Regions from separate parts of the Homo sapiens genome. Here region 1 is linked to region 2. Evidence: fine-mapped expression QTL. A gene starts in region 2. The other region holds a variant in brackets. All regions are shown on one strand. Distances are from middle to middle.

What was found. PIP is the estimated chance that this variant, and not a neighbour inherited with it, causes the effect. A credible set is the group of variants that fine-mapping cannot tell apart.
Region 1: its variant is the best candidate, but not a certain one, in a credible set for the expression of MEG3 in adrenal gland (GTEx, PIP 0.84).

Annotation. Positions count from the first base shown.
Region 1 is chr14:100,718,417-100,721,318 of GRCh38, forward strand. No RefSeq gene overlaps it. Among named protein-coding and RNA genes, the nearest start is that of DLK1, 7.0 kb to the right of the region's middle. The variant G/GGAC (reference allele first, on the strand shown) is at 1,579.
Region 2 is chr14:100,824,563-100,827,464 of GRCh38, forward strand. It overlaps MEG3 (maternally expressed 3), which reads left to right and starts at 1,556. Exons shown (of 10, transcript NR_190993.1): 1 at 1,556-1,655.

The sequences.
Region 1 (2,902 bases), 110 kb before region 2:
CCATCTCCATGTCCCTATCCCGGCCAAATGCTTCCTTATCGATTCCTTGATAGGACGGTGCAATTCAATCCCATGAATACTTAATGAGAACCTACTGTGCACCTAATTCTGAGCTTGGAGCCCAGGGAGAGCTGAAGTGAATTTGAGGAGGCACCCTTCCCTGCTCTTCCTTCCTCTCCCCTCCCCTTCCTTCCTTCTTTCCTGCCCCCTTTCTCTCTCTTTTCCTTCTGCGAAGGGTTTAAGTAGCAGGTTGCTCGGGATAGTGGTGCGTCTAGAAAACCTCCCTCTGACCCCTGGCCTGTAGCCGAGAGGATGGGGGTGACAGGCAGGCCCAGGGTTGATACAGCCATTAGGGAGAGAGGCTTGGACCAGGGTGGCGGTGAAAAGAATGGGGCTATGGAGATGGACTGGAGAGCGACTGGGGAGTGACAGTGCCTGGAGCTTGGGGCCCATTTGCACAGAGAAAGGGCAAAGCTATAGGAGCCAGGAGTCTAAGCCCTCACTCGCTGGGCCAACTGCAGGGTGGCGGAGGCCCTGGAGGAGGTTTGAGGGGGACAAATGGGAGATGCTCGTTTCAGAGAGACCTCCAGAGGGGACACCTGGGAGGCTGTGGGGCTCTAACCCCGGCCCCAGCTCTGGAGCGATGAAGGTAGAGAGAGCTGGACCTTAGTGTGCACATCTGCAGGCAGACTGGCAGACCAGCATCCGGTGCAGGGAGAAGGAAGGAAGGAGAAAATGAAGGTGGGGAGAGGACGTGACCAGCCCAGGAGACAGTCCTGCTGTTTCCCCAAATTCTCTGAAGCAGTGAAGTGACAGCCCCTGCTGGGCTCCAACTGGACCTCTATTCTTGTGACGCGGTTTCTTCTGTTTTCAGTCTGTGGGCTTTTTGGCCAGACCTTGGAGAGACCCATTTAAATGAAGGAATCTGAGGGTTCCTCAAAGGACATTTTATGGTCAACTTTTATAGTCCTCCCGCCTGGGCACCACTCCCCAACATTCTAGTCTTGCTCTGCCAATTCCTTGCTCTGTGACCCATGGAGAATTGCTCAGCCTCTCTGCGCTCCAGCATCCAGCTCTCTGGCTGAGAGGAGAGCCCCCACTGCTAGAGGGGGAGGAGAAACACACACACCTGGGCAGGGATCAAACTAAGGCTCATTACAAACAGAGCAAACTTGAATTTGGGTACTAAGCAACCCCGGGTGGGGTGAGGAGGTGAGGGGGTGAGGGGAATGGGGTTCCACTCACACTGGGCATCCCCTGCGCTCCGTCCCTAGCTGGATCCTGGCTGCAGACAGCCAGCTTGGGCCTCTGGAGGTGCAGTGTTGCCATAGGAACAGGCTCATGGAGAGCGTCTCAGAGGAACCAGGTGCTTGCGGGTGGTGGGCAGGGGCAGGTGGCAGCAGGGGGTGCTGGAGATGGTCCCGACACAGCTACTCCCCACATTCCTAGTGAAGGAACTGAGGGCTCTGGTGGGGAAAGAACCAGGTGGAGGCATCGCTGCAACCCTGAGGGCTCTCCTGTTTGCAAGTCCAAGGGGGTCAGTAACCCCCTGGAACCCAGAGATCAGAGGTGGCAAGA[G/GGAC]GACGGGTGGTTGGGGAGGGCCACCAGGCCGTGGACAGTTGCTAGGACACAGGATCTTTCCGAGGGGCCCATGGTAACCTTCAGAGAACACTTTGTGCCTCATTCATTTATTCATTAATTCACTTAATCCATAAACACCTCGAGGGCAGCGCCGCAGGCCTCTGGCTGCGGGGTGCCTGGCTGAGCAAGAAGCATCTGGCCTTGCTGGGGTCAGACACACGTGCAAAATCCATTAACACCAGGCAGGAAGACGTGTTCAGGGCTGAGATGATGCCCAGGGTGGCTGGGAGGGCCAGGACCCTCGGTGGGCGGGTGAGTGGGTGGGAGCCAGGGGACTTGGCAGGCATGGGATTGGGGGAAAGGCCTTGGAGGAGGAGGTGAGACAGGAACAAACCTCTGTCCCTCTCACCTCCCACCTGTGCCTGCCCCCTCCTTGGGGACTGGGCAATGTCTTCCTTCGCAGGAAATCCCTAGCGCCTGGAACACAGTAGGATACCAAAATCTTTTTTTTAAAAAATATAATTGAATGAAAATGCTAATGCTTCCTTACAAATAAGAGAATAAATATAGTACGGGAACATCTTAAATTCCTCGAGAGCTGTGTGTTTTCACGTCCCTAAACTTGACAGAGCTGCCTGCGAACAGGTGTGGAGGGCTGTGCCGCGCCGCTCATCCTCCCTTTCACAGGCTCAGCGCGCAGTGAGGTTATGATTCCGCCACAGTGACCCCACAGACTCTTAAGCAGGGGCTGGGATGAGGGCTCTCCCCAGGGGATCCAGGCTTGAGAAAAGGATTTCTTCTGTGGCTAAAGGAAGTATCCTCTTTATACGTCATCACAGGGTGTGTTGCCTGTGCCTCTGAAGGTCTCCACGAGCTGGGCCCTACTGGGGAGGTAGGTGGTGGGGGCTGGTGCCTCACTGGATGGGAAGGGTCGGGTGGCCCAGCCTGATTCCCAAGACTTAGCATCAAGTCTGGGCATGACATGTGCGAAGGTTGACTCTGGTATGACAAAAGAGGGCTTCTTGTTCCGTGGACTGTTTGCCAGGGCAAAGGAGGCTGCAGAATGTTGGAGAATAGTTAAGAGATTTATGTCCGAAATGTTGAAAGTTTTGCAACATTCTGCCTCATTCTTCACCATGCTAACTTTGCCCTCACTAACAGAACAGCCAACACTTCCTCGCCATCTCATGTGCATGCATACACACACTCATGTCTCGTTCACACATCTGTGCCTGTACAGCTCTCTCTGCCTGGAAGGGCCTCCCCATACCCTCCTGGAGAACTTCTGTGTACTCTGCACACACAGCTGAGGACTAACCCTCTG
Region 2 (2,902 bases):
CTAGTCCCTGGGGCTCCTGGCAAGCTCCACAGGCTGTAAAGGGGGTGTTTTCTTTCTCCTTCGTGTTACCTGACATATTAAAGCAGCGCCCCATGAGGACCCCAACGTCCCACGTCTCTATCTCCCCAACAGTGCGCCTGTTTATGAAAAAACGAGCCCCCCACACGCCGTCCCAAGGCTCGGCGCCTCTAGTGACCTGACGGTCAATGTTCACCTCCCTAGTCATTAGCTGTGGACGTAGAAATAGCCTTTCTCCCTTCTTTTCAGCCCTGGAATCTCCCGTCTGCTTTACAGTCACCTTGTGGGATCGTTGGGCATGGGGGGCTCCCTCTGACGCCGCTTAAACCCCCCAAAGAAGTGCGGGGGAGCGATTCTGACTTGATGCCCTCGGCGGGGCCTCTCTGCTGTCCTCTTTGGGGCCCCTTGCTCATCCTCACCTGCTTTCTGTCACCGAGCACTCCATCCTTGTCCTCCTGGCTGCCACCCACCTGTCACCCTAAGATAGATCCTCGGTCCCTTTCAACAGCATTTTGACCTTTGCGAGAGGACATTTGATTGACGGCCCTGCACGCTCTGCCACTCAGAGCCGGGCAGAGCTGCCGAGGGCTCCCACCTGTTAGGGATTAACTCCCATGTGCCAGCTCCGGAGCCGAGGCCGCGGCAGGGCTCGGCGCAACATGTGTCGCTGCCTGTTTTTCGGGGCGCTGGGGCTCTTTCAAAGGGCATGTGTGTGGGGATCACCCCAACTTTGAGGGGTAGCTCAGGCATCTCCACATGGGACACAGTCCGCCCTCTAAAAGTACTTTCCTTAGAGGGCACGGCTCCTGTCTGGATTCTTATTACAACCCTGGTGTGTGTGGTGGGGGGTACCCCTGGTTAAGGTGGAGGAAGCGGACCCAGTGGAAGAGGAAGGGGCATAGCGGGTTCCGCGAACATGAGTTGTAAGCGGCAGAGCCCGGGACTCCACAGCCAGGGTTTTCTGACTCGGAGACGCGGAGCTCTGTCTCCCATGTCAAAGAGAACCAGTCAGAAACGCACGGGTGGGCTGGGAGGGGGTGACAGCCTCTGGCTTACATCTGGGAACCAGTTATGTCGCCCGGGCATTTTATTTTCCTGAACAATAAGAGAAAGCATGATTTTCTTTCGCTAAGCCCGCATCCTCCGATGGATGTTCCGAAACCGCCAGGTGTGGGATCTGCGCCCCGACAGCCCCACCTTGGCCATCGGCCGCCTGAGGACGGCCAGCCATCGGGGCGATTCCCCCCACACATTGTGCCTGAATTCACCCTGCCTGGCGAGCCGGGCTCACGCAGGGAAAAAGCACCCGCGACCACAGGGTGTTGGTCATGGCGGCCAGGGGCACTGCGGCAGAATTTTTTCCTCCCTTCTTTGCTGCAATCTGGGTGCGGCTAGAGCAATTTGTCATAGAATCTGGGGGGCTCATTTTTCCGGCCAATCACTTTTAGAGAAATGAGCGCATTGCAGCAGAATGCGCTGACGTCAGAGACCACCCCTTCTGCGCCTCCATATAAACCCCACCCAGCCAGCCCCTAGCGCAGACGGCGGAGAGCAGAGAGGGAGCGCGCCTTGGCTCGCTGGCCTTGGCGGCGGCTCCTCAGGAGAGCTGGGGCGCCCACGAGAGGATCCCTCACCCGGTGAGTGGTTGGCCATCCTTGCCGCAAAGGATGTGCAAAAGGAAGACGGCATCCGCTTCTGGGATGGGCTCTGTCCTCCTGGACATGCCGAGAGCCTGCCTGATCCTGGGTCCTGCTGCTGGAGGCGGCCACTTCGCCTGGTCCCCGAGCGTCCGCAACAAAATTTGTCAGAAAGAAAATCTTGAGGCACATTTCCCTGGGGGGAAGTCAGGGCTCCTCTCTGGAGGGTCCAGTCCTTAAGGGTGGGCTGGGTGGTAGGGACTTCAGTTCAGAGGAGCGGGAGGAATCAGATGGAACTCCTCTTGGATTCGGGTATACGGCAGTCACTGGGGGGCGAACCCCGGATTTCCTGTATTAGAAGCCGCCTCTAGAATCGCGTTAATAGTGGGAGATATGGCGGCGATGCCTTCTGCGTGCCCCATGAATTAGGGGGGGAAGCACCCGAATAGAAGGGTCTCCCGGGCATATTTGCCTCGCCAGCTGTTGGCCAGGTTTTTGGTGGATCGTGGGCGGGAGGAGTGGAGGTTCCTCTTCGCGAGGTTTTCCGAATCCAAATACACAGGTTTAGTGCAGTGTGGACCCCAGGCAAAATGTGGAGTAAAATTTCTACCCGATATCATCTGGTTCTGCCCTGATCAGCCACTTTCACAGTGGAGAGAGATGGCGCCCAAGTGCAAACCTGCCAGTAGCCCCCTAGGATCAGTCCTTGCCGAAGGGGGGTCGTGGGATTGGGGGCACTGGGAGAATAGATGCAGGGGGTGGGTTGGGGAGGAGAGAAGGCCGTGTCCTTGGGTCTGGGAAGAGGGAGGAGAGAAATGCAGAAAAGGGGGTGTGTTGCTGGGGTCTGGACGCTGGGAGCTGGGGATGGGGTGCCGCGGGGGTCTTCAGAGCGTTGCGTGGTGGTCGCTCGAAAATCCTGACATGTTGCAGTCTTGGACTTTTGGTCAAATCGCCTTTTGCCATTTCCTTTGTCAGAGTCAAGCCCCCCCAGGCCGCCCCCTCCCACCCTGGGCCGGCGGGCCTGGTGGGGGCGCAGGCGGGTGGCTACGTGGCAGGTTTCTGGAAGGTTTCCTGGCTGGCCGCGAGAGGGCGCTGGCGGCACTGCGGAATTTTGGGGGGCGGGGTGGGGAGGGGAGGTGGCCTTTGTTCTCCTGATGGAGGGGGTCGGGCGCGGGATCTACTGGAGGATCCTGGATTCGTTTACCCAAGAGGGAACAGTTTTGAGACCCCCCGGATTCACTGCGGAG